Regions from separate parts of the Homo sapiens genome. Here region 1 is linked to region 2. The links come from fine-mapping of genetic effects on gene expression. A gene starts in region 2. The other region holds a variant in brackets. All regions are shown on one strand. Distances are from middle to middle. Region 1 overlaps CHD5 (chromodomain helicase DNA binding protein 5). Region 2 holds the start of CHD5 (chromodomain helicase DNA binding protein 5).

Region 1 (10,555 bases), 27 kb before region 2:
AGCTCCAGGGAGGTGCAGCGGCTTGCCTGGGGCCACACAGCGAATGAGAGGGGGATGTGGCAGAGCTGGAGAGGGACACGGAGGCCAGCTAACAGAGGAGCAATGAGCCAGCCTCCCACATCCTTTGCAGCCTCTGTGGCAGGGATGAATCCCATTTGTCACAGGGTCTGGATTTTCACAGGAGTTCTGGATTTCTAAGTTGGAAAGTTCTCCTTCCTGCCAATGGACTCAGTTTTCTAACTTAAAATACGCAAAGGACTTGTGCAGTGCCCACGTAGGGTGAGGAGTCATCTCTGCAAAGTAGATAAGGATGCAATTCCTGCGTGTGAGGTGGTCTCTTCTGGGGACACAAAGACCCAGTGACCAAGCCCAGCAGCACACAGCTTGATTCTGGCCACTGGGAGGGTCTTTAGGGCCTCCCACCCACCCAGGCTAAGGCAACCAGGCCAGAGGAGTGCTGGAGGGCCGGGCTGGGGCTTGACTACCCCACACAGCAGTGCCGAGGAGGCACACAGACCCGGTGAGCAGCGGCTGCTGCGGGCCTGGGAACATTAAGAGAAAAACCGATCCCGTTACCACGGCAACCGATGTTTGTTTGTTTTCCCATACATAATTGATTGTTTTGCAGATTGGGGGAACAAATCTGGGGGAGATTCACCTGCCCCACTTTGGGGCAGAGAGAAAAACTACCATGTATATTTTTAGCATGTAATTTAGTAAAGGTAGAAAACCATGGGCCAATTCATTGCCGGGCTCAGGTTCCCACAGGAACTGACCCTTGAAGGTCATTCTCAGGGAGGCCTGGGGAGGAAAAGGGGGGTGTCCCATAGTTGAAGGGGGGCAGTTTTTCAAATTCCGCGACCCTCGTACTGAAGACCACCCACAGCCAGCCTCTGGCAAGCTCCTGTCACCCGTGCAGCAGCCTGTTCCCTAAAAGGGCCTCAAAGCTCAGCAGATGGGAACCGGGATTGAAATCTGAACATCTGGCTCAGGCTTTTAACCTCTGCTCTACCCAACAGCTGCCTGAAGCCAGAAGCACTGAGTGTCAGAGGCCACCGATCCTAAGCCCCTCAAAAACAGAGGCCACAGGGTAGCTGGGATGGGGAGCACAAGCTCCAAGCTGCCACCAGGCAGCAGGTACTCTGGGCCCCACCCCAAGGCCCATCTGTCAGCCACCACCAGTTCTCAAGCACCTCAACTCAAGAATCAGCAGGCATTCCCACCACCCACCAAATCAAAACCAAAGCCCACGGGCCTCCTGCCTCTGGCTCTTTGTGCCAGCCTCCTGCAGCCTCTGATTGCTAAGGCATCCCAGGGAACTGCCAGACTGCTCCAGGAAGAGCTGCTGCTGGGGCACTGGGGGGTGCAACAGTAGCTAAGAAAGCAGGTCCTGCAGTCAGAAAGCATGGGGTTCAAATCCCAGCTCCACCCCGTGGCTGTGTGATTCTGGCGACTTAACCTTGCTGTGCCTATTCTCACATCAGTAAAACAGAGGTGAAAGTAAGACGCCTCCCTCCCAGGGTAGGCAGTGCTCAGTACAGCCAGCTGCTGTTACAAACGCGGGGGAAATGTGGACATACTCCCACACCTCGGGCGTCCCTCGTCCTCAGAACCCTCTTGCTGGTATCAAGCACTAACCCAGCATGAGGGTCCCGACGCCCCAGGGGTGTGAACACGTATGCATGAGTGTGCCGGCATGCATGGGACGGCCCCTCTAGCAGGTCAGGCAGATCTCCAGCACTGGGAACCCTGGGCCCTTCCTTGTGCCCCTGCTGTGCCCACATGTGGTTCTGCACGGCAGCCCCAAAGCAAGGGCCCTGGCACCCTGCGCTGCACCCATTTTACAGGGCAAAGAAGCTGACGTGGCCCGGCCCCAGCGATGGGCAGGGTGGCCGCCTGCAGGCACACACCTATGGTTCAGGATTCGGTGAATCATCATCCACTCTGGCTTGATGCCATAGCGGTAGAAGCGCTCCTCCATCTTGGCATAGAGGGGGTCCTTGTTCTTCCTCTTCTCGCTCTTGCCGTCTTCATCCCCAGAGCCGTAGTCAAAGGGGGGCGGCTCATCCATGTCGTTCTTTCTTTGGTAGTTGCGATACATCACCGTGTGGTACAGCTCCAGCTGCTCATGGAGCGGCACAAAGTCACAGAAGGGAGATGGGCCATGGTCCCCTGCATCTCCCTACCCAGCTCCTCTAGCCCCAGCCCAGGTCCCAGGCAGGACAATCCTCCCGCTCAGCACCACCCCAACTCCCAACAGCACCCCTCAGTCAGAGGCGCTTCAGCCCCTTCCCGCCAGCCCAGGAGGGTCCAGGGCTCACCAGGTCCCGGGCCTTAGCACAGCCACCCTCCCGGGCACTCACCTGTAGCTCCTTCACCCAGGAGCAATGCCAGTAGGACAGCCCTGCCCACTTGACAAAGAACTCTCTCTCAGGGATGCCCTCCAGGGGCTTAGGTGGAGGGAGGCTGGGCTCCACGTCAGGCCCCGGCAGCCCCACCATGAAGGGGGCAGGGGGCTCCGTCCACCTCCAGTGTAGAATCCGCTGGACTTTGCCCTTCAGTGGGGGGCACTGTGGACAGAGAAGGGTCCCCAAGGTGGGGCTCAGCTGCAGGGCCCCACCCTGAGGCTCCCATGACAGCAGGCTGCCATGCAGGCTCCCTCCCATCAGTGCCACTGCCCCCAAGTCAGAACAGTACCACGGTGACGCCATGACATCCACCCCGTCCCCAGGAGCCGCATGGGTCATGCACACAGGAGATGGGCAGTGGGGGTCTGTGAGACCACGTGGCCCTTTCACTCAATGGTGAACTTATCGGCACCCAGAATATCTGAGCCAGCGTAGGTGAGACTGCCATGTGCATAGGACAGAGGGGGAAACTGAGGCCCACTCGGCAAGGGACAGCAGAGCAGGGAGCAGAACATGAGATTCTGGACTTCCCCTACCTTAGGTCTTCCCATTGCCCCCTGAAAAGAGGTCACATCACTGTGTGATCCCCAAGCACTCAGGGAGCATGAGCCCTGTGCTGGAGCCCAGGGACACGGCAGCCCCATCCACCATCCCTCACCCGGGGCAGGGCTGCACCCAGGCACCGTGCGTCTAGGCTGGGACAATGAGGCCCCATCTCTGGCAGCCCACAGACACACTGCAGGGGCCCTGACAGATGCTAGGGTGACAGTGAGCTGCTGGCTGGCAAAGGCAAGAAATACAACAGCCACAAACCACACCACTCGGGCCCTGAGATGGGTGGGAGCAGCCTTGGCCCTCCAAGGAGGCGGTGCTGTCTGACTGGACAGGGTCGGGGGTGACTGATTCAGGGAGACAGCTCTGGTGGGGATAGCAGGTCCCAGCTTTGCTACTACCTGTCCTCGGAAACTCATCCAAGCCTCCAGAGCCTGCTTTCCCATCTGTAAAATGGCCCACCCCTTCCTCCACCTACCAGATCTGTGGTGCCACATCACACCTGAAGGCATTCTGGAGGTGCAAGGTACACCACACAGCCAGCCTTCCTTTGGCCTTGGTGACAGCAAAGGCCGAGAGGCAGAGGAGGAGGAGGAGGACATGGGAGGCAGGAAAGGCTCCTCCACTGGCTCTTGGGGGAGTGGAAGAGGGGACCCTTCCTACCCAGGCCATGGACCCTCCTACCCCCATCCCAGCCCCTCAGGGAAGAAGCTGAGAGGAACCCCACTCCTGCCCCCCTCCCATCCCCAGGGCCTTCCATCAATCCTAGGAAAGCACAGAAGGCTGCACCCCTCAAAAGGGTCCTCCCCTGGCCCCTACACAGACACAGACAAGTATGCGCACGGATGCACGCACACACATACACACGCACAATGCACACAGGA[C/T]GGCCCAGGGCTAAAGGAGGCACAGCCCAGGACCTGAGGGGTGGAGGATCTGGCACCACAGGGGGCAGGACAGACAGCTCAGAGCAAGGGGCCTTCCGATGTCTACTGTGACTGGGGGGTGACGGATGGGGGGTGCCCCTCTTCCTGTAGAAACTGAGGCTCCCGCCCTAGGAGCCTCCTGCCCTAGAAGCCTCCTGCCCTCTCCCTATCCCCAGCCTTGGAACAGGAGCCAGGTCTGGGGTGGCTCCAGGAACCTGAATTTGAGTGGATAGTTCTGCCCTTGTGTGGCCTTAGGCAGGTCACTCTGCTTCCCTGAGCATCAGTTTTCTCATCTAAAAAGGGAGTAACATGCCTGGTGCCAGAATACTCAGTAATGTTAAAGGACACTATGATGGATGTGGAGCCCTTGCAGAGCACGTGGTCACTGAACAGTGGTCGCGGTGTTGGCATGATCACCACACCTGTCTGCCTTTCCCTAACACTCATGCCTCCCGTCTCTAGGGGAGTCAGACGCGGAGAAGGGCGCGAGGAAGCTATTGTGGACGGGGTCTCGAGCAGCGCGGGCGAAGCTTTGCGGGATCGGCTACCGAGGCGGGGCAGGAGCCGGCAGGGGCGGGGCCTTTTGAGGAGGGCAGGCCTTCCCCTGGGGGCGGGGCCTGTTCCTGGGGTGGGGCGGGGCGTCCGGCGCGGGGCGGGCGGAACACTCACAGTACAGCGCGGGCAGAGCCATTCACCGTTTGGGATCTCGGGCAGCGGCGGGTTGAGGCAATGCAGGTGGTAGGAGGAGGGGCAGGCGTCGCAGCAGAGCAGCTCGCCCCCGTCCTTGCACACGCGGCAGAACTCCATGTGGTCGTCCTCCTCCTCCTCGCAGCCGCCCTCCTCCTCTTCATCGTCGTCGTCCTTCGGCTCCCACTGGATCCCCTCCTTCTCCTGGGGGAGGAGGCCAGGTGGAGGCACCCTGGGCGGGGTCCCCGCTCCACCAGGCCCGACTCCCTCCCTCCCCTACAGCATCTCCCCGCATTCTGCCCCCAAATGAGGGCACAGGGGTGGGGGAGCCAGGCGTGGCCCCGCCCCCAGCCCGGGGCTCTGCCAAGGCTTACACAGTGGGGGCAGCTCCACTTGCCCTCGGGAGCCTTCTCCAGCTCTGGGTCCAGGCATACGAGATGGTAGGCCCTCGGGCAGGTGTCGCACAGGATGATCTCCCCACCCTGCTGGCACACCTCACAGTAATCCTGGTGGTCTGTCTCATAGCCGTCACCATCATCAACTAGGGTAGGGGAGAGGCAGTCATGGAAGTCCTCATCCACACTCCCAGCACACAACCAACTGCATCGCCCCAGGCCAGACAGGCACAGAGTAGATGTCTAATAGAGGGTGGATGGAAAGGTGGGTGGGTGAATAGACTGATGGTTGAGGTGGTAAAAGGGTGAGGAGATAGAAGATGGATAAAAGGAAAGAAGGAAGGAAGGAAGGGTAGGAGAGTGGGTGGATGGGTAGAAAGATGAATGGATAAATGGATGATGGATGGATAGACAAATGGATGGATAGATGAATGGATGGACAAATGGATGGATGGATGGATGATGAATGGACAAATGGATGGACAAATGGAAATGGGTGGACTGATGGATGGATGGATGGATGGACAAATGGATGGATGGATAGGTGGATGGAAGGATGGATGGATGATGAATGGACAAATGGACGGATGATGGATGGATGGATGGATGGACAAGTGGATGGATAGATGGATGTATAGATGGATGAATGGACAAAAGAATGGATGGATATATGGATAAACCAAATGGATGGATGAATGGATGGGCAAATGAATGGATGATGGATGGATGGACAAATGGATGGATGGATGGATGGATGGATGGATGGGCAAATGGATGAGTAATGGATGGACAAATGGAAGGATGGATGCATAGATGGACAAATGGATGGATAGATGGACAAAAGGATGGATAGATGAATGAACAAATGGATGGATGGGTGGACAAATGGATGATGGATGGACAAATGGATGATGGATGGACAGAGTGGTAGATGGATGGATGAACCAATGAATGGATAATGGATGGACAAATGAATGGATAACGGATGGACAATGGATGGATGGATGATGGATGGATGGACAAATGGATGATGGATGAATGGACAAGTGGATGGATGGATGGGATGGATGAATGGATGGACAGATGGATGGATGGACAAAAGGATGGATGGATGGATGGATGGATGGATGGATGGATGGATGGACAAGTGGATGGATGGATGATAGGATGGATGGATGGATGGATGGATGGATGGATGGACGGACGGACGGACGGACGGATGGACAAAAGGATGGATGAATGGATGGATGGATGGATGGTGGATGGATAGCTGACGGATGGATGGACAAATGGATTGATGATGGATGATGGATGAATGGCTGGATGGATGAAGGATGGATGGATAAAAAGAAGGGACTGAGGGAAGGAGGGAGAAGGAGGGATGGGAAGGAAGGTGAGGTAAAGATGGGTGTTAAGTGGGTGGGGGGTGACTGAAGGGAGGATGGCGATGAGATGAAGCACTTCCCTCTCCAGTCACCACACTGCTAATGCAAATGCCCTGGGGTAGCTCCCACCATAGGTTCCTTGTTCTTTCCTTACTGGGACAGGATGCCCCTCCCCAGACAGTAGAAACCAGGGCCGTGTGGGAAACACAGGGGCCCCACCTGGCTGAGACATGAGGATGCCCTCCCCCTGCTTCCCACGGGGAGGTTCCATGCCCCGCACATCCACCCGGCAGGCCGAGAACCGTCCAGATGGGGAGTCCTACTCGTGCCCCACTACATCCACCCAGCAGGCCAAGAACTCTCTGGAAGGGGAGTCATACTCCTCTTCTTCTTGCGCCTCCTCTTGCTCTTCTTGCCCAGGGCTGCAGAGCATTCGGAGCGCACGGAGGCACTGTGGATGCTGGCGCTGTCGAAGTCCGACTCCTCCCTCTCATCTTCTTCACTCTGCAGGGGAAGACAGGGTCCTGTGATCCCAGGGCTTCACCCAGAAGGCTTCGCTGGCCCAGGCAGTGTGGGGTGGGACAAAGCACGGAAGAGGCTCTGGAGACACAGTGCTCTCTGTGATTCATCTCAGCCCCCAACACAGCTGAAAACCTCACATTACAGCCTGCCTGTCCAGCCTGATGTCCCACCGCCTACCCAGAGCCCTGCTCTCCAGCCTCAGACACTTCCCACAATTTCCACCTCTGAACAGCTTCCCAGGCCTTGCCCTCCATCCTGCCAAACTCCTAAACATCCTTCAAGGGGCAGCCCTAGGGACACCTCCTCCAAGAAGTCTTCCCAGATCTCTCCTTTACTGGACCTACTGTGGCTGCGTGTGTGCCAGGTCTGGCCTGTCCTGTCTGACTGGTACATCACGGGCTCTCCACCAGCAAACATGCCTGCCAGGTGACGAGTGCTACAGGACCACGGCCCACTGTGGCTGAGCAGCGGGCCTGGTACACAGTATGTGCTCAACAAATATCTGCTAAGCTGAACTGGACCGTCAGCTCCAGGGCGGGCCACACCTTCTCTCCATGCTCCCCTCCAGACCTAACACTGGCTCCTGCCATGGTGCAGGGAAAGAGCTTCCAACTCCACCCACCGCAGGGCTGGGGTGAGGTGAGGGAGGCAGCTACCTGTGGGGGTGAGGAGGGCGAATGCCCCTCACACTCACAGAGAAAGGGGGGCCCCAAGGCTGAGTAAGACCTGGGCTTAGTGTCTGAGCCTGGGCCCAGAGCTGGCCCTGAGGACAGGAGGAGGTAACTGGGGCTCCAGCCAGCCTGATCCTACCCACATACCACTTCTCTAGGGTCCAGCCCCCACCCAACTACTCCCCCCGAGAGCAGACCTGGGTGCTGGGCGGCCAGGCCCCACCAGGACAGATCCCTCCACCTCCTGCCCAAATGGAGTTGCAGCTGTGGACAGCAGGAGCCAGGACTGAGCTCCCACTCAGGAGGGTGAGCCAGGGGAGCACTCCCTGCCCAGAGTCCAGGCTAGAAGGGCCCTTGGAAGGATTCAATCTAAACTCCTCATCACACAAATGGAGAAACTGAGGCCCAGCACACCTGCATGTAGGATGGAAGGAGAATAGTGGAGGGGTGCGACCTGCCCCAGCTAGTTTGTAATGAACTGAAGGCCCTCGCCTGGCCCTTGCGTGCTCATGTGCAGACACACATGCATGCAAATGCACACACACGCGCACACACGCACACACTCACCGAGGAGCCTTTCTTCCTCTTGTTGCTGATCCCCCCGAAGCGGAACTTGAGCCCGGCCGTCTTTTTCCCTTTGCCCTTTTTCTTCCCATCTTTGGAGCCTTTGATCTTCTTCCTCACTCCAGGCCCTGAAAAACAGCAGTGATGATAGCCAACCACTGCCACCACTGACGGCCTGCTTCCTGCCATCATCTCACTGAGCTCTCGGTTACCCAATAAGGAAAGGGTCATTTCTACCATCACCCCGTTTCAGATGAGATGCCTGAGGCTTGGAGAGGTAAACCCCTTGCTTAAAATCACACAGCAAGTGAGGCAAAAACCAGATGACGGCTCTGACTGGAGGCTGCCCTGACCGCCTTGCTGCCCCTTGTCCATGACCCACAGAAATGTGGCCCTTTTGGGAGGATCCCCTATACCGTCTCCAACCACTGAAAGGAGGCACTAGCCATCCCCCACAGCCAGCAGGGCCACTGAAGGCACAGCCGCCCACCTGTGGTCCATGCCTGAGCCCCCAAAGGATGTCTTGGAGCCAAAAGGCCTTTTCCCACCTGCCAGCCAGGCAATGCTGGTCCCACCCAAGACTGCCCCACCTCTGCCAGTCAACCCCAGCAAGGGCCAGCAGGGCTGAGGCTGTTTTTATGGAGCTGGCCACAGGGCAATTAGCTACCTGGGGAGTAATGACCCAAGAAGGAAGGGGGGCCTGGAGGCAGGGATGCACACCCCACAGAGGCAGCCTCTCCCCAGGCCGTCCTCTGGCCACACCACACACACGGACATGGAGCTAGGAGCCCAGCTGCACCCTCCATGGCGCCGCGGAAAATCTATTTCAATTTTCCAAGCTCTGAATAAGCAGCTCATGGAATCGATAGCTCAGCAGCTGGAGCGCGAGAGGAAATGAGAAAACAAGGCAGGCTGGGCAGACAGGGGCGGGCCAGGAGCCCCTCCCGAGATCCTGATGGCCCAGACAGATGGAGCAGGACAGGGAACAGACTCTGACCCTTGTCACTTCACCCACCAGGCTCCCTTCAGAGACTTGGCATGGTGATGCCAGACACAGAACCCCAGAAACTAAAGCTCCTTGGGGCTGAAAGAAGGGATCCCCGGAGCCCCCTCAGCCCCTTCCATCAAAACCCAAATCAGCCAGACGCGGTGGCTCACACCTGCAATCCCAGCACTTTGGGAGGCCGAGGTGGGCAGATCACCTGAGGTCAGGAGTTCTGAGACCAGCCTGGCCAACACGGTGAAACCCCGTCTCTACTAAAAATACAAAAAATTAGCCAGGTGTGGTGATGCACTCCTGTAATCCCAGCTACTCAGGAGGCTGAGGCAGGAGAATTGCTTGAACCCAGGAGGCGGAGGTTGCAGTGTGCAGAGATCGTGCCACTGCACTCCAGCCTGGGAGACAGAGTGAGAGTCTGTCAAAACAAAACAAAACAAAACAAAACAAATCAGGGCACCCAGGAAAGCTGAGCTGCAGGTGACTGACAGCCCTGGGGAGATCAACATCCCCAGCCTCCAAAAGGCCAGAAACCTGCACCCAGAAAGCTCCCTCCCCAGGGCCTTCAAGTCACAGGGGGCCTCTGCTGCCTGCATCCTCCCCACCCAGACGCCCTGCCACTGAGGCAGAATTTGGATCTCGATCTCCTTCCAGGCCTGTCCCAGAACAGCCTCCCTGGGAAGCGAGACCTGGCCGTGCCCAGTCCCTCCAACTCCTGCCTGCTTCCCGGATCCTAAAGCTGGAGGGGCAGGGCCTCCATGCTCCACATTGGCCGAGGGCCTGGAGAACAACCCTGCACACAGTGGGTATGCAGACAAGAAGAAGAGACGGGCTCGACTGGGGCCTCCTCCTCCTCCCCAGAAACGGCACAGGCTCAAACCCAAGAGCCTGCCAACTCCCAGAAACCCAGGCTGGAGCGGCTCCACTCTGCGTACCTCTGGTCCCGCCCTCCCTCCAGGCCCACGTCGGGGGCACCTCCTGGCTGGCCAGGCTCAAACCTCCCAGACCTCTGCCCACATCATCGCCTCTGCTTCTCCACCAACCCCAAAAGGGAGTCAGGCACAAAAGAGGCGACGATGCTGCCTCACTGCTGAGAAAGGACCGGGCAATCCAAGGTCACACAGGCACAGAGCCCTCCATTAGGAGCACCCCAGCTGCCCCTCCCTGCCCGCGTCTGCCCCGTGGCTTCTCCTATAGGGTCTGAAAGGGACCTCTTCCCAGCGGGACTAGGTGCCCACCCAACCCCAGCCTTACCTTTGCCCTCCTTGGTCTTGGCCTTGCGGATAGGCACAGGCTGGGGCACCTGCGGGGGGCTGACGGCTAGCGGAGGGGAGATGGTGACCGTCTCTACAGCCGCAGCCACCGCCGCCGCCGCTGCTGCCGCGGAGCTGCCCTTGAAGGGGTTGTTGGCGCTGAACTCCCGCCACTTGGCACCCAGGACGGTCATCATT
Region 2 (14,481 bases):
GGAGGCTTCCAGAAGGGAAGAACCTCCAAGAGTCCTCTAGAAGGGCCCACGAGAGAGCCGGCCCTTCATGCCAGCCTGCGGCCCCAGCGCCCCAGCCAGCTTGTCCTACTCGCTCTCCACCATCCCCTGTGCACTCAGGAGCACTCAGGGGAAGCTGAGGGGCAAAGAGAGGCCCCTCAGCCTCAGACCCTCTGCCATGGACACCCCAGGCCTGACCTTCTGTGACAGTGGAGACACAACAGGGAGTGTCACTCAGAGCCTGAGGGTTGCCTCCAGTGGGACCCCGCGGAGGACGAGAGGTCCTGGGGCCACCAGGAGGCTTTCACCCAGGAAGGGGGCAGAGTGTCCCTGCTGGATCAAGTTTAGAGACAGAGAGCCCCTTCCCCCGAGGAAGTTTTTGATCATAACCACCTACAGCTGGCAGTGTTGGAGCCAGGTTCGAACCCAGGCAGTCTGGTGACCCTGGTGACCCCTGGGTCACCAAAAGGGCTTCGAGGCGACCCCCAGTGTGGCCCACACGCTCAGACACACTCGCCACATGCAGACGCACAGACATGCATGTGCACCCAACACTCACCTGTCACCCTCCACACAGGCCCCCACCGCCCGGCCTGGGACCCCCAGAGAGTCCTAAGCGGGGAAAGGGGGACAGGAGGGCTCCTACCCTGGGTCTCTGGGGCTCCCATGGCCCACACTATGGGTGCAGCTTTAGCCCCACTGTCCCCACTCCTCGGGGGCACCGGGGCTCTGGTGGCTGAGCGGACGCCCCTCCCACCCTTGCATCCCACGGGGCCAATGTGCACCAGTGGAAGGTGTTTGCACCAGTGGAAGGTGGGGGCTGCACCACTGTCTTGGTGCCTCTCTGCACCAGGGCCTCCCTCAAGGGTGGCCAGGTGCTTGGGGCTCCCACACAGGGAGGGCACCCTGTGGAGGGCTAGGGCACACAGGGGAGCCAGCAGCAAGGGCCGCCCCAGGTGGGTTTATGTGGGTGAGGCCCCAAGCAGCCAGGGGCAGGGGCTGGGCTGCTCCGGCTGACCCCACCCCATTCCTCTGATCACTAGTGTGGAAAGGCGGGGATTTTTCAAACCAGCTGAAAACGTGCACGGGGACCCCCTCGGAGTCGTCCTGCAGAGCAGGTGTCGGTGGGGCAGTGGCAGGGCTGGCGGGGAGCTGTCTGTGGTGGGGCAGCCGATGGGATGCCAGTCCACAACTGCCCGCTCTGCCACCGGGCCTCCGCCTCCCCCGCCACCGCAGGAGACCGCCTGGGCAGAGCCACCCCCACACCCTGGCGGTGCCCAGCACTGCTTATGTAACGGGCTCTGGCTGATGCAATCTCGAGGGGGGGCCTCTCCCTCCTGCTTCCTCCCAGCTGTCCCCTTCCGGCAGGGTGGTCCCAGACTTAGGAAACCCAGCCCAGCACATGGTCACTGACTGGTGGCCTGACCAACAGAACGGATGAGGGTATGCACAGGTGGCTGCCAGAAGTTCTGGAAGGAAGTCTGGGATCTGCCCGTGGGTAAGGGGAGGACAAAGGGGGACCCCTGCTCTGGCCCTAACCCACGCCCAGAACAGGCCTTCGAGGACAAGGCCCCAGACCCTCTGCCCATGGACAGACCCCAGCTCCGTTCCCAGAAGACCTCACAGCCCAGGGCCTCTGCCTGGTGAAACCCACCTCTGAGAAGGCTCTGGAACTGGCACACGGAGACGGGGACTCAGCCCTGCCTAACCCTGTCTCTGATGGGCCCTTCCTCTCCCCAGATGGCTTCTGGTGGGTGGCCCTGAGGTCACCACACGCCTGATTCTCTATGACACTGCCCCCCCCAACACCTCACACGCTCCCGTCTTCAGCCAAGCCCCAGCCCCTTTCTGCCCTTGGACACTCTCTGCTCCCGCAGCAGGTCCTGAGCTTTCTAAAACCAGATCTGGGGGTCACCATACAAGCAACTGCACGGTCAGCCTTTCCCCAAGCCCAGCCTGTGCCCTTGAGCCCACCAGTCCCTCCTCCCTATGGCTCCATCTGGTGGGGACAGAGCAGAGGCCCAGAGGGTTCCAAGACGCAGAGCATGCAGCCAGTGTTAAGGTGGCATCCTGCCCGTCCCGGGTGAGGGGCTCCAGGGAGGAGCAACCTCACCTCAGAACTCCTTGTCCTGCCAGCTCCTGGCCCCTCGTGGCTGCCCCACCACCCTCCTGGCCCACCTGGCAGTGCCCTCATGCACCAGCCCTAACCCTCCAGGGCCTGAGGCTCCACGGATCCAAGCCTGCTCTAATTAAGACCCATTACCCTGTGATCACCCACCTCCTGGGGGTGGAGGCGGGGTGGGGCTCAAGTCGACCAGAGGAAGGAGAGGCACCTTCTGCTGCTTTCTCCAGAGCTCCCTCAGCCCCTCTCTAGCTCCCAGTATGCGCCAGCTCAGCCCTGTGGGACCCCCAGGCTGGCCTAGGCTGAGCCACTGCAGGCTGCGGCCAGGCCGATGAGGTGGGCCCTTCTCAGGGTAGCGCATTGCAATAGCAGCAGTCGTGATAACTGCATACCACCTGCCAGGCTCGTGCCAGGCCCAAAGTACCTAGGACTGATTAATTTGTATCAGTTCAACACAGCAACTCAGAGAGGGGTACTATTCTTTCTGGTTTGGGGCTTTATTTATTTATTTATTTATTTTAGAGACAGAGTCGCTGGCTGGAGTGCAGTGTTATGATCATGGCTCACTGCAGGCCTCGACCTCCTGGGCTCGAGCGACCCTCCCACCTCAGCCTCCTGAGCAGCTGGGACAACACGCACAACCACCACACCTGGCTCAGGGTTCTATTCTTATCCCCATCTGCAGATTGGGAAACTGAGGCTCAAAGGACCTCATTATTTACCTACATCTCAGTCCTACAGCTGGCAGTGGTGAAGCTGCCACTGTTTGAACACAGGCAGTGGGCGCCCACCCCCTTGCGAAGTCTCTCCCCCAGCACCCTCCCACTGAAACAGCCCACGCTGTGTAAACCGGCTCGGTGGATGCCCTGGGGACACTGAGGTGACTCAGGCTGGTCTGTGGTCTGGCAGGTCACAGGTCCCTCAAGGGGGTCAAGGCTGGTTCACCACACTAGTCCCCCTGCACACAGCCCCACAGCTCTGCCAGACCCAGGCTCCAGCCCCTCACTCCTCTGGGGAGGGGCAGCAGCAGAGCAAGGACGCAGCCGCCAGGGCACTTGGCAAACACAAGGTGATCAAAACAAGGGGAAGGCGCGTGACTGTGGAGCGAAAGTTAGGTCATCTGATTCTGGGTGGTTGAAGGATTTGCAGGGGCCAAGCCAGGAGCTGGGACGAGAACACCATCACCAGGTTGCAAAGGCCGGCAAACCTGCCAAGGACAGGGACCCCACTCAATGTCCACCACTCTCTCCAGGACCTGGGGAGAGGCGTTATTTCTTTTTTTTTTTTTTTAGACGGACTCTCGCTCTGTCACCCAGGCTGGAGTGCAGTGGCGCGATCTCGGCTCACTGCAAGCTCCGCCTCCCAGGTTCACGCCATTCTCCTGCCTCAGCCTCCCAAGTAGCTGGGACTACAGGTGTCCGCCACCACACCCGGCTAATTTTTTGTATTTTTAGTAGAGCCAGGGTTTCACCATGTTAGCCAGGATGGTCTCGATCTCCTGACCTCGTGATCCACCCGCCTCGGCCTCCCAAAGTGCTGGGATTACAGGCATGAGCCACCGCGCCCGGCCGAGAGGGGCTATTTCTGTTCCCCACCTGGACTCCCCAACCAGCAACAAGCAGAGAACAAGGCCACCAGGAGGTCAGGAGGAGGGAGCAACAGGGGCAGCAGAGGCTTCAAGCTACCCCTCCTGGAGGTGATACCAGCAAGTCCCCTCCCCACTGAGCCTCTCTCTTCATCTGTGAAATGGGCCTAATGTGGCAGCCTTTCCCCCAGGGCTATGGGGAGAAGTAAAAACTGTGAATGCAAAGGACCCACACGATGCCTGCAGGGGCTCAGCAATGGCAGGCAGAGCCCAGCGAGACCCAGGAGGGTCAGGGCGGCAGTGGTGAAGGGCAGAGGGCAGCGGTCTCTAGTTTGGCCACTGCTGGGCCAGAGGTTCTCAGGGCCACCCTAGACGCTGGCCAAGGAGTTCTCAGGCTGCCGTTAGTCCTCGAACCTCCCCCCATGAGACAGGGCTTATGCTGGCAAAGGGGGGCAGTACACCGCCCAAGAGAGGATTCATAATTTATTTATGACATTTAACAAAACCCAGACATCACCTCATTGGTGTCACATCAAAAGAAAGCATCAGTCCTGAGTGGGGAGTGGAGGGAAGAGACGGGGATAGATGAGGCATTTACCCCAAGTGACTGGGGCCTGGGGGGAGTCACCCTGGGGGTGCAGGGAAAGCAGGGAGAGGCCCAGGGCATGGGTGGGGAGGAGGAGGACAGAATGGTGAGAGGGGAAGTCAACCTGGGGGGACAGGGAGGGACAAAAGAGAGAAAAACGGCCAGACAGAAAGGGAGAGGCAGGGGCATGACCTCAGGGGAGACGAAAACTGACAGATATGGGGACAGAGGGAGAGAGAGAGACAGGGAAGGAGAGTGAAATAAGGACAGAGCCACAGAGATAAGCAAAAGCCCAGAAAGTTAGACAACACACATTGTGTTCAGTACCCAGCTCAGAGAAGATATTCCAGAAGTCTCTGATGGGTGGACGGATAATTGTATAGTGAATGGATGGATGGTGGATAGGTGGATGGATGAATGCATGGTGGATGGATGGTGAATAGATTGATGGATGATGAATTGATGGATAGATGGTGGGTAGATGGATGGATAGATGGATGGATGGTGGGTGGATGGATGGATGGATGGATGGATGGCAGATGGATGGACACTGGACGGATGGTGGATGGGTGGATAGTGGATGGATGGTGGATGGGTGGATGGACGAATGGATGGTGGATAGATGGTGAATAGATGGATGGATGATGAATTGATGGATAGACGGTGGGTGGAAGGATGGATGGTGGATGGGTGGATGGATGAATGGATGGTGGATGGATGGTGAATAAGTGGATAGATGGTGAATTGATGGATGGATGATGAATTGATGGATAGATGGTGGGTGGATGGATGAATGGTGGATGGAAGATGGAGGATGGACGGATGGATAAATGGATGAATGGATGAATGACGGATGGATGGATGAAAGATGAATGGATAGATGGATGGATAGATGGTGGGTGGGTGGATGGATGGATGGTGGATGAAGGATGGATGGTGGGTGGGTGGATGGATGGATGGTGGATGAAGGATGGATGGATGGATGGATGGATGGCAGATGGATGGCTGAATGGATAATGGATGGATGATGGATGGATGGTGGGTGGATGAATGGTGGATGAATGGATGAGTGGATGGTGGATGGATGCATGGATGGATGGTGGATTGATGAATAGATGGACAATAGGTGGATGGATGGATGGCAGATGGATGGATGGTGGGCGGATGGTGGGTGGATGAATGAGTGGTGGATGAATGGATGAGTGGATGGTGGTTGGATGCGTGGTTGGATTGTGGATTGATGGATGGATGGTGGGTGGATGGATGGATGGATGCATGGATGGATGGTGGATGGATGAATGAATGGATGGTGGATGGATGAATGGATGGTGGATGAATGGATGAGTGGATGGTGGATGGATGCATGGATGGATGGTGGATGGATGCATGGATGGATGGTGGATAGATGAATGGATGGATGACGGGTGGATAGATGGATGAATGGTGGGTACAGGAATGGATGGATGGTGGGTGGTGGATGAATGGATGGAAGCATGAATGGTGGATGGGCAGATGGATGGATGGTGGATGGGCAGATGGATGGATGGTGGATGGGTGGATGGTGGATGGACAGATGAATGAATGGTGGATGGATGGATTGGAGGATGGATGAATGAATGGTGGGAAGCATGGACAGATAGTGCATGGATGAATAGTGGATAAGAAGAACAAGAACAAATGGATGGATGGATGGATGGATGGATGGACGGACGGACGGATGGATATACATATGGATAGATAGGTGGATGGTGAATGGTTACTTGGTTGGTTTTGTGGGTCGACGGGTAGATGTGGGAGAGCAGGTAGATACATGGATACATGGATGCATGGATGGATGGATGGATGGTGGGAAGCATGGACGAATAGTGCATGGATGAATAGTGGATAGGAAGAACAGATGGATGGATGGATATGGTATGGATATGGATTGATAGGCGGATGGTGAACGGTTACTTGGTTGGTTTTGTAGGTGGATGGGTAGATGTGGGTGGGTAGGTAGATGGATGGATGGATGATGGGTGAGCGACTGAATGAACTGATAAAATGATAGATGGATCCTATTACCTGATCAACTTGGAATGACAATGAATAACCCACTGGCCAAGCCACTGGGCAAAGTGTGCTGGTCATTTTGTCTCCCTCCTCCCAGAAAAGAATGTTAAATACAATCAGGCTCCCTGGGACCCCCCTACCAAACCATGCTTCCACAGGGGTAGGGGTGCAGGCTAAAATGTCATGGCCTTTTGGGAATCATGACTGTCACTCTCTCCTGGCCCCTGGACCTGAGGAAGCAAGCCTAAGATACTTACACATCTAGGGCCAATTGTCACTGGGGCCAGAGAGGTAACGGTGCCTAGTCCAGACATTGCCCATTCTGGGCTCACTAGCTTTGTCTGTGATTGAGGAAAAGCTGGGCCAATGAGGCAGGGAATTTGCCAGCCCAGCAGTGGCCCTAAGAGGGCTGAGAGCCACATTTTCTGAAGCCCTCTCCTGCTTCCTGCCACCCCTACCTTGGGCTTCACAGCCCTCCTCCCACCCAGGCTCCTACTCCCCTGAGCTTACTGGCTAAGGATGCAAGTATCAGAAGCATTTCCTTGGAGAAGGCAGGACAGCTGCCCTCCTTGGCTGGTGCTAACTACACCAGCCACAGTTTATTGAGCACCTATCATGTGCTGGGCACTGTGGCCTAATGTTCCACATGCACTGTCTCACTGTTCCTCATAATAACCCTCTATGAGGTAGCCAGTGCTATGTCCCCATACTACAAGTGGGCACACCGAGGAGAGGGCTGCCTGGCTTGTCCAAGACCACTCAGCTAATGCTCAGAGCTAGAAGCCAAGGCCTCATCCCACCAGCTCTTGACCCCTGGCTTCAACCAGCCACCCCAACTCCCAGGAGAATCTGGCAACTGCTGGTCCCCCAACCAGAAGAGGCACCCGCCCTGCCTTCCTCCTAGAAGCTGGCTCAGACACCTGCCTCAATGCCAGAGCTGGCCAGGGCAAACCTCCCCCTCCCCACCATCACTGCACGGGAAACAATAATTCACTGCTGAGAGTGAGCAACTCCCAGGGGGAGGTGGGAGATGAGCAGAGTCAAAGAAAAAAGATCGGACAAGTCATGAGTTTAATAGCCGTAGACTGAAAAATCATCATGACAGCTTCCAAAACACTAGCTCCTCCAGCCACAAACTTCCATCTTTTGGAACCAGCTGGTTCTGGTCTTTGGGGGTCACCGCCACTGAGCTTGGACTCAGGGCTGCATAGGGGCTATGAGGAAGAGCTCAGGGTGAGTGGGGGGCCAGCAGTGCGACTTGACAGGAGGCCTGGCTAGGGCTGTCTTCACAGCCAGAAGCTGGGGTGACCTAGAGAGTCCCAGCCCTCAGACACTGAAACCACAACCATCTCTCAGGAACGCATGGTTTCAGGTGCTGGGCATGGCAGGTTATCGAGAGTTACATTCGAAGGGGAACCCACAGATCCAGGAGGAAACTGATGACAACGTTTCGAGTATGTGAGGTGTGGTGACACAAGCATGTAGTCCCAGCTACTAGGGAGGTTGAGGCAGGAGGATCGCTTGAGCACAGGAGTTCAAATCCAGCTTGGGCAACACAGCAAGACCCCATCTCTTCCAAAGAAAGCATGACAATGTGTCTCAGAGTGACTGGAAGGCCCTTAGCAAGGGTGTCCCTCCCCATCATAACATTCGAGCTGGGACCTAAATGACCAGGAGGCAGCGGTGAGCAGAGGAAAGAGCAGGTCAGGCAGAGGTCACAGCCAGGGCCCCATGGCAGGATGGAGCGTGGAGCGTGGAGTGTTCCAGAAGCAGCAAGGAGGCCAGCGTGGCTGCTGTGAACAAAGGGGTACAGGAGTGGACCCGGGACAAGGGTTTCAGAGGCGACTGGAGCCATGCGGGTCGGGATCTGACTTGGGTTCACGAGGTGACCCCAGCTGCTGTGCAGTGGGTGGTCAGAAGGAGTGGGTAGAAGGCCCTGGAGGGGACCGGCAGGAGGGGACAGAGGCTTGGACCCAGAACATGGAGAGAAGCCAGGAGCCTGGAAAGGCTCTGGAGGTGGAGCAGCTGGCCTTGCTGATGGATGGGGACAGAATCCCCAGGCCAGAGGTGCCAGAGCAGGGCGTCTCTTCTGCAGGGCTCTGGGGGCACTCCTGGAGGCTCTGGGGCCAACCCACCGAGGGGGAGCACGGGTGGTGGGCAGGATGACCAGAGCCCCGCCTCTCTGGCCCAAGCAGTGAGTCGGGTGCCTACTAGACTGGGGGCACCTTCCCTGGCCTCTTCCCCTCCCCAACCTCTAAGTCCCCACATAGTCAGAGAGAGCCGGAGTGTAAGATGGGAAAGACAGCCAGGGGACTCCACCAGCGGGTCGGTGCAACCCCAGAAATGCCACTGATCCCACAAAAGGGCCACACCCCAAACACCATAACAAACAACTTGCTGAGAAAACCAGTAAACTGGCTTACTGGGGAGCCAGCCTCCTAGGTGGAAAATGGCCACTGATTTTTTTTTGTGCCTGTGCGGGGCCTCAGAGTTCCCCTCCGGAGAATGGGTCTAATTCCAAGGACCCAGGATATGACAGTCAACTATTGTCCAGGCAACTCCACCCCAAGAGAGGACTCCCCTATTCCCCGTCCCCAGCACGCTCGCTGCCAACTTGGCCTGTCTAACAGGCGAGGTGAGTGCCGGGCTCCTGTAGGAGCTCAGTGACAGCATTAAAGCCACCAACTAACCAAGCAAGCAAACAGAAGGGGGCAGGGGGTGTGGCCACCTGGTGGGAATACCCTCCCCAGAAGACGCTGGCTGCTTCCTCCAACAGGAGCTGGAGGTGTCCATTTGTGGAGTCTTCTCACCCCTGGAAGTCAGAAGGGGCCAGATGCACGTTCCTGGGCCCGGGAGGGCCTCCAGCCTCCCACAAGTCTCTCCGAAGTCCAGAGAGGCCACAGACTTGGCGCAGGGAAGCCGAGAAGTAAGAGTCTCCCAGAAAGGAGGGAGGGTGGCTGACAGGGTGGGGCCCTACCCAGCTGTGCCAGGAGGGAAAACGTCCCAAACAAATGGTGAGCAGTTAACTAAAGAACTGTCCCGCAAGGCAACCCCTGGCGCACAGCCCTGTGTATACTAAATTCTGAGAGAGATAAAAGGAGAGAGATGGTAGGGGCAGGGGCGGTGGCCCTGGGGCGTCAGGCCCGTAGCCAAGGCAGGGTGGGCTGGGAACGGCCACCACCCTGGGCGATGGTGAGGCTGGAGACAGCGGCGGGCGCTAGGTCGCGCCAGAAGGACGCCGGCGGCCCGGGTAAAGTGCTTGGGAGCGGCGGTCACAGCGCACAGAGGCCAGGAAAGAGGAGCAGGGGTCCGAGCCCGTGCGTCCCAGAGCGGAGTCCTCCTGGGCCGGGAGGGAAGCCGCCCCATCCTGGGCGCTCAACGCGTCCCCAAGCACCGCCGGTCCTCGCCCCTCTCTGGGCCCCACCCAGCCCGCCCCGCGGCCGACATGGGCCAGGGGCCGGGTCCCGCCTGCCCGCAGCGAGGCCAGAGGCGCACGGCGGCGGGACGCGAGCGCGGGGTGCGCCGCTCCGGGAGCTAGCGCGATTCCCGCCCCCTTCAAGGGCACGCGGGCTGACCCTGACAGCGCCGCGCCCCCCAGCGCAGGCCCCGGCCCGCGGTCCTCTGGCCCGCCTGGCCCGCGTCGCCGCCCGGGGGGCCCGGATCGCACCCCGCCCTTAGCCGCCCTCACGCCGGCCCGGGCGCTCACCCAGCCTTCGCCCTTGGCCGCGCGGCGCCAGCAGGGCGGGAGCGCAGCCCCGCAACCCGGGTGCCCCTCCTGCGAGGCGCCAGCCCGGCCGCGCCGCCCCCGCCGCCCGCGCTCCGCCCTGGGCCCGGCCCGTCTCGGCGCCCCCGCCGCTCTGGCCCCAGGCGCACCCGCGCCCCGCTCACCTGACATCTCGTCCTCATTCTCCATCTCCTCGGCGAACAGCCGCGGCAGCTCCTCCTCGGTGCCCACTGGGCCCCGCATGCCCGGCGCGGGGAGGAGGGGAGGTGGGCGCCCCCCCTCCCGCCGGGCGCGGTGCCAGCCTTAACCCGTGCGCTGCCGGACCGGCGCGCGCGGCGGGCGAGGCGGCCTCGGCGAGAAGATGGCGGCCGCCTGCCCCCCCACCCCCCCAAACCTCCACCCCCCCGTCTCGACCCCCCTTTCTCTCGGCCGCCTTAGCCTGCTCCCCGCAAAGCCCGGGCGCTCCTCCCACCGCGCCCCGCAGCCCGAGTCCCGCAGCCGGCCGAGGGTGGCGGCGGCAGCGCCAGAGGCACGGCGGCACGGCGGGGGGGCGGCACACATGCCCGGATTGTGACGTCCAGTCTGGTTGCTGTGGCAACCCCATCCCATCGTTCCGGCAGCGCGACTAGTTAACAGCAGAGAACAAGTTGGGGGACTAGTCCTGAGCCGCCGGGTGAGGGTGGGGACCGGGGGGCGCCCCGGCAGGGGGAGCCGTCGAGGCGTCCGCGCGCCCGCGGACCCGACGGCCGAGCGGGCAGTCGGGGCTTGGCGAGCCCGGGCGCAGGGGGAGGCGAGGAAACACCGCCCCCGCGCACCCCGGGCAGAGCCAGCCGCCGCCGCTCGCCTGCGAAGGCGCTGGGCCCCGAGCCCCCAAGGGCGCGGAGGCAGGGTCTTCAGGGCAGCGCGCGGCCCGCTCCCCCACTCGGTTCACAGGCGCCGGGACCCACCCCGCTCCCGGCTCCGGCCTCGGCACGTTCCTAACCCCCTCTCCAAAGAGGATTAGAAGAAAAATGTGTTCCACACTTGGGGAAAAGACGCTCTGGAGACTGTGGGTCTGATTTACAGCAGAAAAATCCGCGCAGGCGGGCTCCCCTCACCTGCTTCCCCGCTCCCACCGCCCACGTGCCCCCTTCCAAAAAGCCCCTCCAGGCTGGGTGCAGCTGAAACCCATGCAGACCCCTAGGGGTGGTGCGGATCTGCGATGTCTGTGCCCAAAACTCCCGCTCAGAAGCGACACCTGTCGCAGAGCAGGAAGGAGCCGCCGCCACCAGCCCTCGGTCGTTAAAGGTGAAGATGGAGGCCAAAGCCCTCGGGAGCAAGACTGGAATTTTAAATGAGCGCCTCCAGTCTCCGCGGCGGCAAGTCTTAAAGCTACCTTAAGAACGCAAAAGTTCCAGGGGCTGGCCGACCGCCAGCTCTCTAACCCCAGAAGGCCCGTGAAGGGAGGGCCCCCTCTCACTGCCTCGCAGGGGCACTGGGGGAACCCACCTGAGACACGCAGGATCGGCAGCAGTTTCCCTTCTTCCCGTTCAATTTTATTGCCAGCAAACCCCAAACAAAAGACCCTCTGCATTCATCCCTGGGCAAGGAGAGGTCGGTCCAGCCTTCTGGAACCAAAGACTGGGGTGTTGGGAACCCCTCCATCTCCCAGATCCGCTTTAACTACGCTGTAGATAGAGAAGCCGGGTCAGCCCAGTGCTGGCCGCCTGCAAGGGGAAAGGAACACTCTTCAGGGAAGCAGGCCAGGAAACCAAAGGGCCTCCCCTCCCAAGGCCGTGTTTCCCCACAGAGCAGCTAGCCAGGGGGAGCCCCAGATCACCGAGGCTTGAACCAAACCTGCCTCTTCCTCGTTCTTTCCAGACCAACTGCCTCCATGAATGGTGACCAACAAGGGAAGAAAGCCCTAAGCTGACACGCCCACCCCTCAGTTACCAGCCCCCCAACACCTCTCTAATCCCTTTCAAAGGTCCCCTGCCCTTCGGTAGAAAAACTCTGATTTACAATACTTCTCATCACCAGAAAGCCGCCCCCATCATTAACCCTGGCTCCAATTCCCAAGGCGAGGCTGAAAGTCAAGATATCGTTCAAGAAAGAACAGTTCTAACTGCTTAATCTGGCAACAAATTAGAGCCGAGATGCTCATCAGTCATAATCCTCTCCCCATCCTGTTCTTCCCGATGACTGCAACTAGGTAATATTATTTAATGTCCAAAAGCAAAATGAAACAAAAACTGGAATGCTAGAAACAAATGGATTTTTTTACTACAAATCTCCAGGTTTTTTGGGTTTTTTTTTTCAAGGGGGGGAGTTGAGATGGTGTCTGTCGTCAGGCTGGGGTGCAGTGGCGCAATCTCAGCTCACTGCAAATCTCCGCCTCCCGGGTTCAAGCGATTCCCCTGCCTCAGCCTCCCCAGTAGCAGCTGGGACTACAGGCGCGCACCACCACACCTGGCTAATTTTTTGTATTTTGGTAGAGACAGAGTTTCACCCTGTTGGCCAGGATGATCTCAATCTCCTGACCTCGTGATCCGCCTGCCTCGGCCTCCCAAAGTGCTGGGATTACAGGCGTGAGCCACCATGCCCGGCTCTCCAGTCATTTTTAAAGGTGAGCCCTTATTATTGTTAAACTATTAAATGGGTATTTTAATGACAACGGACCAAAAATGCATGACGTTAAAAGCAATCCCTGAAACTTGCAACTCTGCGTTGCAAGAACAAGCCTATCATTAAGGTTACTGTTTTAGGAGACAAGATTCTCATGTTTGCTGATCATAGAGCTCATAATTACACCTCAGTGACAATTCCAAAATCAAAATATTTTTTAATATACCGGTTACAAAAGCATCAAGGAAAAAACTTTTTTCGGCTGGGTGCAGTGGCTCACACTTGTAATCCCAGAACTTTGGGATGCCGAGGCGGGCAGTCATGGATCACCTGAGGTCAGGAGTTCGAGACCAGCCTGGCCAACATGGAGAAACCCCATCTCTACTAAAAATACAAAAATTAGCCGGGCATGGTGGCGGGCGCCTGTAATCCCAGCTGCTCGGGCGAGTGAGGCAGGAGATTCGCTTCAACCCAGGAGGCAGAGGTTGCAGTGAGCCAAGATTGCGCCACTGCACTCCAGCCTGGGTGACAGAGCGAGACTGTCTCAAAAATAGAAAAAAAAAAAACTTTTTCCAAGAACAGAGTGGAAAAAGCTCATCGTCTTCTGCACATACCATACTCAATTTCCATTCCAGGACTAAATGAACTCCTCATCCAGGAACCCCCAAGGCCTGCCTGAGGCCATTTCGTTCAACAATGCATATCCACGCTGTGGCCACCTGGCACCACCAGCTTCTCAAGGGCAATGAAGTGCTTGTACATACACCACCTCACAGCGAGTCACATAGATCAAAACTCTGCCCCACACCTCCTCCTCGGCAGGGGTGAAACGGCGTCACTCAGGACCGCAGTGTCCTCTGCAATGAAGGCTCAGTGCCCACCTGCTGCACCAAGACTTTCGTTGCACTTGAAGGCTTTTTCCGAAAGTGTGGACCCTGCACCACCTGAATTCAAATCAGTTGGGGTTGCAGGGGAGGAAGGAGCTTCTCAAAAAGGCAGCCCTGGGCCATGGCCCTGAACCTGAGAAAATCCTTGTGTAAGCCTGAGAACGTTTTATGGGTGTTCTCTGGGTTCTAGCTATGGTGGCAGCTAACTCACTCCGCTGGTCAGCACAGCCTTTACAGACTGTTTTAGCTGGGCCCAAAATAGCCTGGGGGAAAAAAAAGAATGTGTATTCTCAAATCCATCCCAAAGACAAGAAAATGGCTGGATGAGAAATTCAGTTTCCTGTTCCTAGAGATAAGCACTATGATTGCACCGTTTAACAGGCAGTCCTCACCTCCTTCCTGTAGGTGGAGGGCTACCTCCTTGCAGGGATGGCAAATCCCCACACCAAGCCTCTCTTCTACCCTCTTCTCCCTCAAAGAGAATCAACCCCACAGTTTATTCCACTAAATACAGGCCCATCACCACGACTCAGCGAACAACCTGGGCAGGTGCCAACCCAGGCTCTCCTTCAGGGACCTGGCCCATCTCTCACCGCCGTGGTGCCCCTACCCTGCAGCTTCTGACTCGTCACCCCAGTATTCTGTCCAAGGGTTACTGGGGAGATGGTCTGTCCCCTGGAACTGCCAGATCTGTAACTGTCCCACATCCTAGGTCCCCCTCTCCTGTGGGAGGTCTTGGTTTACAATACTTGACAAGTTTAAGGGTCTGAGTCCCATGTACAAATGGAAAGTGAAATCAGGTGTCAACACCAAATTCCAGGCTCCCCTGACATCAATGACTTCAACAGCCGGACCATTATTCCCCATCACCAGGGTCCTTATCACCCTCCAGGAAATCAAGTG

What was found.
Region 1: its variant is fine-mapped to the expression of CHD5 in blood mononuclear cells (TOPMed, PIP above 0.99).

The regions. Positions count from the first base shown.
Region 1 is chr1:6,144,302-6,154,856 of GRCh38, forward strand. CHD5 (chromodomain helicase DNA binding protein 5) reads right to left here. Exons shown (of 42, transcript NM_015557.3): 5 at 10,359-10,555; 6 at 8,111-8,235; 7 at 6,731-6,854; 8 at 4,945-5,111; 9 at 4,553-4,774; 10 at 2,364-2,570; 11 at 1,911-2,122. Among named protein-coding and RNA genes, the nearest start is that of CHD5, 31 kb to the right of the region's middle. The variant C/T (reference allele first, on the strand shown) is at 3,845.
Region 2 is chr1:6,169,694-6,184,174 of GRCh38, forward strand. CHD5 (chromodomain helicase DNA binding protein 5) reads right to left here and starts at 10,628. Exons shown (of 42, transcript NM_015557.3): 1 at 10,252-10,628. The coding sequence starts at 10,330. RefSeq lists enhancers at 8,884-9,385, 9,386-9,885.